2 linked regions of the Homo sapiens genome follow. The protein of the gene in region 2 interacts with the protein of the main gene of each other region in a pairwise test. Each region holds a gene or a part of one and is shown on either strand. Other genes may lie near its edges.

Region 1 (4,344 bases), on a different chromosome or scaffold from region 2:
CCTTCCCATCTGCCCCCACTACTGGTCAGTCTCTTCAGCTATTTGGGAATAGCTGTGAAAGGAGGGGGCTGGGCAAGCTTGTCTCTACAAAGGACATCCAACTCAAGCAATCTGAGATCTTCAGAGTTACTTCTTAGGACCAAGGGACAATGAGGTCCACTGGTAGAATCCCTATGATCTATAGATTTCTATTCCCTTGAATTTGACCTTTCAGAGTCTCCATGCTTTACTGATATCTATATGTGTGAGGTAGAGGTGAAATCTGTACAGCTAGAAGTAAGCTGGGCATTTCTATAAGATATAAAAGCAATGGTTTCATTCACTCAAATCAGACTTAAGGATGTATCCCTATGGGCAGGAAACCCAATTCTAAGAAACTTACAAAATATAATCTCTTTAGAAGTTGAACTTTTAGTGTTTAGAGAAAAAAAAAAGCCATAATCTTTAAAACTGACATTCCAAAATAAAAATATTACCTACATTTCTTAGTATTTCTCTTTCTTTCATGTATACAATAAATTTACACATATACAATGGAAAATTATCAAATCATTATTAATAGGAAAGTGTATTACCAGTGGCCACTGGTAAGAATATTTGTTACAGGCCGGGCACAGTGGCTCACGCCTGTAATTCCAGCACTCTGGGAGGCTAAGGTGGGCGGATCACCTGAGGTCAGGAGTTCAAGACCAGCCTGGCAAACATGGTGAAGCCCCGTCTCTACTAAAAATACAAAAATTAGCCAGGCATGGTGGCAGGTGCCTGTAATCCCAGCTACTCGGGAGGCTTAGGCAGGAGAATTGCTCGAACCTGGGACGTGGACATCCCAGTAAGTGGGCCGAGATTGCGCCATTGCACTCTGGCCTGGGTGACGAGCAAAACTCTCTCTCCAAAAAAAAAAAAAAAAAAAAAGGTTTGCTTTCCCCTGGCAAATCTAAGTTTGGCTTATATTCATTGGTTAAGTGAGTCAAACCAACTCATAAGGTTTCATTAAATTTGAATGAGTTTTCTTCCCTCCCCTGAAAAAAATCACGAGCTCTTCCAGAAAATGACTGGAGTGAAGCTGGTCCTGAACTCGAGGCTGTGGAAAGCGCTCATGGAAAAGTAAGTGCATGCAGCCGGCTGTGGGCTCTGCCAGCTCCTCCTCATGCTTCTGGCTGTTGGTCTGAACTGCAGGCAAACAAACTTGCTTTTGCAAGAATGAATGGCTCAAAGATGCACCACCCACATTTGTGTTCTTGCCTTGCTTCTTAAGCAAGTTATTCTATTTGAATCTATCCCTTCTTGAAGCTCTACCTCAAGAAATAAAGTCAGAGGGAAAGAATCATTAGAAGACCTTTTCTAGGCTAGTCAACCATCTCTTTTATCCTTAAAAGACAGAAAGGCTCAACCTTAGGCAGTTAAAACAAAAAGTAAGCAAAGTAAAAAAAACATCATACTTGGTAAGCAGAAACATCTCCCAAATTACCTCCACTTGAGGTATGGAATTTTAATTAAAGAACTTAGCACATTCTATTTGCTGAGCAGAAATTATTTCTAAAGAGCCAAAACACATTTATTGATTTCTTCACTTTAGCCTATTCCCACAGATAAATATCTCTCCAAATATAAATCCTGCTTGCTGACAAAGAACATACCCTTGCTTCAGCACATGCAATCAATTTGAATGCAGCCATCTCATCTCCCTTTTAACTCTTTTGGGTTACAGAGAAACAAACAAAAGTGTCATAAAAGCATTTCAAAGAACCTCTGCCAAGAAAGCCACCTCCCAAACAGACTGCAGTTTATGCTGCTCTGAGCAAGAACTGGAAAGGCTGGGCCAAATTGTCAACACAGAACAAAGTTGGATTACAAACCCTGTCTTTCATCTTGCAAACACACACACACACACACACACACACACACACACACACACACACACACACTTGGATTATCTTTATTTAGTCTTTCAGTGGCAAGCTTCCCAATCACTCGAAAGCAATCAAAGGGCAATAATTAACATGCATTTACTCTCCCATAGAACACATCCACAGCAAGCTGTGACAAAGCTAAGGTAACCATGCATGTGTGTGTTCCAGTTTATTCCCTTTTACAGTTTCATGGCATTGTGCCTTGGACATGAGGCCTATCATTAAGGAATGTTTAGCTGTTACCTCTGCTCTTACATTTAAAAGATTTGGAATACCCAACTTTTTACTTAGAGAGAGACCTAAGATACTCTCTCTCCAGTGGCATTTTTACACACATACACCCACCTACCCAGAGATAAAACAAAGCTGGGAAGAATCTGTTGGTCCAAAATGAGAAATTGAGTCCTTGCATGGCTCAGGTGCTTGCTATTATAAACTATGACTAAGAGACATGAATTTCTCTATGATGCAACTCTCAAGAGAGGCAGCATTTTCTCCAGGCCTCTCTTAAACCTGCTCATTCGCCAGTGACTAATGCTCTCTAGAGCAGCCCTGTGCTGCTCAAATTTCATCAGCCGGCTTTGTCCTTCATAACTCTGCCTAGACCATAAAAGCTCCCAAACCTGTTGAGGACAGCCCCAAAAGATCAGTGCAAAGTAACCATGCCCCTGCCAGTGTTGAAAGCCATCTTTTGAGCTTCCCACTGCATTTTCTCTCTAGTAATGAGCACTTAGTGGCCATTTTAAGAAAAAGTTTCTCTTCTCTGAAGAGAAAAGCCACAGCAACTACACGAAAAGTAAGAGTAAATCAGGCCACTCTGTGACCACCCCTTGTCAGCTTAGGGGTAGAGACAAAATTGACAACATGTTGGATGAAGCCAAAGTTAACTGGAGTTTTCCATTAACTATTTTCTGCACCTTTAAGAAAAAGAGAAATATCAGGTTCATGATTCACATCAAGGACTTAATTTATAAAACAAACCCCAAAAAAGCCATAAAACAATGTGTGATTAATAGATGCTTGGCCTAACACCAAATATATTTTGTCAGTTAATTTATAATTTTGAGCTTAAAGCTTTGCAATATTCTTTTTTTTTTTTTTTTTGAGATGGAGTCTTGCTCTGTTGCCCAGGCTGGAGTGCAGTGATGCGATCTCAGCTCACTGCAACCTCCGCCTTCTGGATTTAAGTGATTCTCCTGCCTCAGCCTCCTGAGTAGCTTGGATTACAGGCGCCCACCACCACACCTGGCTAATTTTTGTATTTTTAGTAGAGACGGGGTTTCACCATATTGGCCAGGCTGGTCTTGAATGCCTGACCTCAAGTGATCCACCTGCCTCAGCCTCCCAAAGCCCTGGGATTATAGGTGTGAGCCACTGTGCCCAGTCAGCTTTACAATATTCTTAAGGTAAAAAGAAATTTAGGATAAAATTATGTTCAGTAAATCTTACCTGCAATACAGTAGAAATACTTTAGAAATAATTTTATTATGAAATAAAAGTTTTCAGGGTTAATTCTGAATTATTAGAAGAAACTAAATGCATACTACTGTCTAAATCTGGCCATAGCTGAAAAAAGCATATTCTAGACATGGATGATCTAAGACCAAACAATTTCAGAACAAATGTGCCATCACCAGAAAGGTACTTACGGTTATCAGACTGAAAATCTGGGACAAACTGTTCATCATCAGGAACTTGTGCTGGAAAATAGATTTTTATTTTAGACCTTTAAGTTTTATTAAAAAGCACAGTAAAATGTTTTATATGGAAAATAGGACATCCATGAAACTTGCCTTCAGCTAACCAAGCCTCTTGAAGTTGACTGAGATCCTGAAATAGCTCTGAAATTGAAAAAGAAGACCCCAGAATGAGGATATTTCTTTCGCTAGGGAGAAGACAGGGAAGAATCTACACGCTACTGTCACTGGGAGCAGGGAAGCCACAACATAATCAGGGAAAGCTTTACTACCTTCAGAATCGTGAGCCAGATCTGTGTCCAAAAACTTCCTCTTTCTGTCAATCACAGGCCGCCCTCTGCATTCCTCAGATCGAGATTTCTGAAAGAGGCCAACAGAAAGTGAAGGCTCAAGTGTAGTAAAGAGGTCCACAGGGGGAAGACTCATATTGGAGAGGGAGGACAAAACAAACCAAAAGCCACATAAACTTACCCCTGGGACCATAAAAGGGACTTGCTGATCATAAAACCCGTCCATGGTGCTTTCAGCGTCTCTAATACCACTTTGAGAGGTTTCAGCATTGAGTAATTTCTGGGGGAAAAGGGATCCTCCTGTAATATGAATTTGGGAGATTTTAACTAAGAGGGGGGAAAAAAAGAAATGAAACAATTTTAGACTGCCTTTTTTTTAGGGCCTGTGCAAAATTATTACCCTTCTGTGAAGTACTTAAAACCTACTCAAGGTGCAAGCTTTACACA
Region 2 (5,188 bases):
CTACAGTCAAATGACATATAGAAGCTTCTCTCCAGAGGCTAAGGATTCCTGGAGGTAAACAGGGAAAAGGACACATGCCTGAAATTCCCAACCAAGAAACATGCTGCTGCTTTGTGATTGGCTTTCTGTTCATCAAAAGAACAACTGAAACTAATTTTCCTGGACTCTAACCTTGAAATACAAGTAACATCAGTAAGAAAAACAAGCAAGTATAGAAAATAGAAGAGGTAAAAAGACTTCATGGGCAAAAGAGTTAAGCGTGAAACATCAACTGTATTAAATGAAAAAGTGGGCACTACAGATCTGCAAGATAAAAGGAAACAGCCTTGTGCCAGGTAAGAAATGCTGACCTGGTTCATCTACTCCACCAGTACAGGACTTGCAAGTCACAGCAGTAGAGGAACAACTATCAAAAGAAGTGGCCCAGTGCAAAAACACAAGAGGCCTTTGAAAGCAGTATCATGAAAGAGGCCTGTTGCCCTGCTGAGCACTACTGTGGCAACTAACTCTCATTTCTGGGTGGTTAGCTCGATCAGCAAAGTTAAAGATTTAAAAGAATGACAGGTAGAGAGATGGCCCAAAAAATGGTCTGTTGGAAAATTCAAAATTATCTCAGTTTAGGTACTATTAATAAATGTTCCATGAAAAATAATAACTTTATACTTGAAGTTGCTTTCAATGTGAACATAATGGCTGGGTGCGGTGGCTCACACCTGTAATCCCAGCATTTTGGGAGGCCGAGGCAGGCAGATCACCTGAGGTCAGGAGGTCGAGACCAGCATGGCCAACATGGTGAAACCCCGTCTCCATTAAAAATACAAAAATTAGCTGGGTGTGGTGGTGCACGTCTGTGGCCCCAGCTACTCAGGAGGCTGAGGTACAAGAATCGCTTGAACCTGTGAGGCGGAAGTTGCAATGAGCCAAGATCACACCATTGTACTCCAGCCTGGGCAACAAAGTGAGACTTCATCTCAAAAAGAAAAAAGTAAACATAACTACACCAAAATTCAAACAAAAATATTAACACTGTTGCCCTTTATGTGAATATGAAAGTATTACCTCAAGTTGTATTTTTTAAAGCTAATTCCATTCCTGTTCTTTTATCCTATATAATAAGTCTTATCCCATATGATTTTAATATCTGATACTTTAATAAAATGAGTAAGGATTCTTCCTAATTTCTATGATCAGATACATGTATGTCATGGATAAGAACCCAACTGTTTTTTCTCTAAGACAAAAATCTAAGATACTTGGTCACTAAAAATCCACCAGCATTTTATATAATTGTTGGTCACTCCCTAATGCCAAGAGTCAGTGCAAAAAAAGCATAGAAAGGTGGCAGAAAAGAAGAAAAAGGCGAGGGCAGCCAATTAAGGCAAAAAGGAGAGGAACTGAGATGAAGCATGTAGAACATTTGGAGCCGGGGGGAAATCTCACTCCTCTCTAAAAGTCCCAAAACTGTATTTGAGTTTGGACTGATTTATTTCTAGGAAGCACCGCTGCTATTTCAGATCCGCTTACCTAGGCATCTTCTTTTCACCCTTTCCAGCTCATGCACTCTTCTGGCTGACAGCACAAGAGAAACTCCTAGTTTAGACAACTGGTAAGCCAGCTCCTCACCAATTCCACTCGAGGCTCCAGTCACCCACACCACCATATCAGTCAGCTCCCATTCTATGGAAGGAATGTAAATGGAAGGAAGAAAATAAGCAATGAATTACGCTCATAAATCCAAGATTAGAAAAAAAAAAGAAAGCCTTAAACAATACCACTAAATATGAAGGCATGATGTATAGAGTTAAAATTTGAAATATTCTAAGAAAGCATCTCCTTCTTAACTAAAAAAAAAAAAAAGCATTAATACAAATCATACTAGTAACAGTTATCAACACAGTATTTGTATATTACAGAACCTTCATGACTTTTCCAGACTTTACTTCAAGGTAAGCCTTATAACCTCATGGTTTCACTCTAAGGCTCTATTTAACACAAACAGGTAAGATAAATATGATAGATAAGATAAACAGGCTAAGTAAATACAAAAATCACTGTCTGGACTCACTTTTCCTTAGCCATTAAATGAGGCATTCAGATTAGATGATGGCTGAAGGTCACATCCAGTTTTTAATTCTATTATTCTAATATTTTGCAATGGAGGTTGATGAAGAATCTAAATATACCAAGTTCTGTGCTGTTGATGGAAACATCCTAGATTTTTAAAGTAGTATTTTCCCCATTTGCCAATAATGCCTGATGCCTATCAGCTCAAGGTCATTTTGTAAAAATGTTCCCCAGATGCCTGAGCTTTCATCTTAGGAGAATATAGTAATTCACCCAAGAACAAATGCATATTACAGAGAGATGAAATATTGTACTCTGCTTCTCCAATTATGTTCCTCTTAAAAGACTACAAATGTTACAGTACTAAAGCAATGACAAATGGTTTATTCTTTTCTCCAATGAAAAACTTATTAGCACTTCAGGAGATGATATTCACTGTCTCTCTGAACCCGTAAAGTCACTGTTATGCAAAGTTCCTGGGTGACTTATTTACTAAAATATATGTTATTTATCAAAAATATCAAATATCGTATCACTTAACATCACATTTCCGATTTTAGATCAGAAAAGTTAAAATCAGGAAATGATTGTACTGTTTTAAACAGCTCTAAATCCTAACTGTGATGTTAACAGTACCATCCCTGGAGACTGCCAGGGTTCAAATGCCAGCTCCATCACACACAGCACTGAAATGCTCCCAGGTGAGAACTTGGTGCCTTAATTTTCCACAACTGGAAATGTGATGAATAAGAACACATCCTTCACAGGATTGTTGAGAAATGAGTTAAAACATGGAAAGCACTCAGGGCAGTATCTAGTACATACTCAGTGTTTAATAAACGTCAATTATAATTATTGCTCAAGTTTTTTAACAGATGGACTTTACTACAGCAAAACATAGAACAGTCACTTAATAACGTATGTCTCCTAACTTCTCCAGCCAGGAAAACAGAGTTACCAATTCTAATGGCTTAACGTTTTTACATTACTTCCTATGTACTTAGCACATTGTCTACTAAAAGCCTCACCAGAACTGTATGGAAAGGTATTATTATCTCAGTTTTACAGAAAAGGTAACTGAGGTTTACAGAGATTAATTTGTCCCACTAGACCATAGATTCCATTAAGGGTAGGACCCTGTCTACCTTGTTCATTGCTGTGGCCTCAGTGCTTAGCAAAGACTGGAATATTGAAAAGGCTCCATAAATAACTACTGAATAAACACCCAAGAACCCTGGCAGAGCCGGGATATAAGCCCAGGTATATCTAGCTCCAAAGCCCACACTGTCCACTATTTCATGATATACACATTTACATATGATCAATATTTTAAAACCCAACTGTTTCTTAGACATTCAAGAAAATACCACTTGTCCTTAAGAAAAAGGTTCCATGTAAATATCTCAACTAAGGCCAGGTACGGTGGCTCACATCTGTAATCCCAGCACTTTGGGAGGCCAAGGCGGGCAGATCACTTGAGGCCAGGAGTTCGAGACCAGCCTGGCCAACATGATGGAACCTGTTCTCTATGAAAAATACAAAAATTAGCCAGGTGTGGTGGCGCATCGTTGTAACCCCAACTACTCAGGAGGCTGAGGTGCAAGAATTGCTTGAACCTGGGAGGCAGAGGTTGCAGTGAGCCAAGATTGCTCCACTGCACTCCAGCATGGGTGACAGAGTGAGACTCTGTCGGAAAAAAAAAAAAAAAAAAAAAAATCTCAACTAAGGATGGAAACATCCCAAATACTATGTCTGGGCTACAATGCTTTCCTGTCATATAACGTACTTTTGTGAAAAGGCACAATTGGGCCACCTTCCTATAGGACTTTATCAAGAACAACATAACATCTATTCAGATAATCATTTATTCATTCATTGACTACTTGTTGTTCCCAAGTTCTGCAATCATCACACTCTAGAGTGAATATCATTTGTTTTAGAAACACAGGATTTACTAACTAGTGTCGAGCTAACAAAGACCTCTTGATATTTACACACATAAGCAAATATTTAAAGCTGATGGTGTAAACTTTTAATACAATCACAATTCTGGCCTCTTCCTCCCACCCTGAAGAAACTTTTTTATTTAGCACCGTTTGTTTCCCGATTCCACAGAATCTGGTATACATAATGGCCTCCCTTTAAGAGCCCCTGAAAGTAGATTCTTAAGAGTTGAAAGGAAAGTGATAGTTCAACCCCCACTCCAGTTTGAGAATTCTCTTCTCAAGCCCTTGACCCATCTCTAATTCCCTCACAGGATGAGGAAGCTAATTATCTCTGAAGGCTTCAGCTCCTTTTTTGGGAAAGTCTAATCATTCCAGGGATCTTTTTTATACTGATATGATAAGCTTTTAAATGCTATCAACCAGTAGCAGTGGGCAGTAATCCTGCCTTGTGGTTTGACAAAGAAGAAATCAAACTTCTGGTGTCGGTGGGTCCAAGTGTCCAGCCTGAGGCATCCTCCCCATCCCTTCCTCTCCCAGCACCTCAAACATTCATCAAGGATTTTGTATCCAAGGCCCAAAAGTTTGTTACCCAAGACGACAAATATTGACATGGATGCAGTTGATGCTGAAAATCATTTGGAATTGGAGGGAAAAACACAGCTTATTAATCAAGTGTTGGAACCCCAACATACACTTCAAGATCTCCCTGTCAGAGGAGATGCGGTTACGGAAGAAAATCTCAAGCTAAAATCAGAAAACCAAGTTTCTTAGACAATACACAGAAAATTTCATGTCAGCTTCTAGTGTTTTTCAAACAACTGACACAAAAAGCAAAAGAAAATACAGAATTGAAGCCCTTCTGTTTTATGGAATTGCTGCTGACCTTTCTTTATATGTTGGACAGATTTCAAAAGTGATAGTACCTTTGTTTGTGGTTTCATTGAATATTTATGAAGCTAATGTCAGATGTAGGCAACATTCATAGCATAACAGGAAACTTCCATAAGTTTGTGTATTATGTTAGTCTATGAGAATGTGCAAATGTATTGGAAACTTAATTTAGAATAGCACATATTTATGAAACTTAAGATGAATGTTTTATCAAATTTGCTCTGATTTGTGGGTTTAGCCCTGTCTTTTATTATAGGCTTAGTAAGATATACAAGAAAATAACCATC

What was found.
Region 1: the proteins of DHRS7 (region 2) and ETV5 interact in a two-hybrid assay, tested with the Homo sapiens proteins (one large-scale study listed by BioGRID and IntAct).

What each region holds. Positions count from the first base shown.
Region 1 is NC_000003.12:186,101,746-186,106,089, forward strand, and holds part of ETV5 (ETS translocation variant 5), read right to left. Parts: intron 4,198-4,344; 5' UTR 4,124-4,197; coding exon 4,079-4,123; intron 3,968-4,078; coding exon 3,880-3,967; intron 3,752-3,879; coding exon 3,704-3,751; intron 3,611-3,703; coding exon 3,560-3,610; intron 1-3,559. UniProt on the Homo sapiens protein: Binds to DNA sequences containing the consensus nucleotide core sequence 5'-GGAA.-3'.
Region 2 is NC_000014.9:60,154,476-60,159,663, forward strand, and holds part of DHRS7 (dehydrogenase/reductase SDR family member 7 isoform 1 precursor), read right to left. Parts: intron 1,678-5,188; coding exon 1,525-1,677; intron 1-1,524. UniProt on the Homo sapiens protein: NADPH-dependent oxidoreductase which catalyzes the reduction of a variety of compounds bearing carbonyl groups including steroids, retinoids and xenobiotics.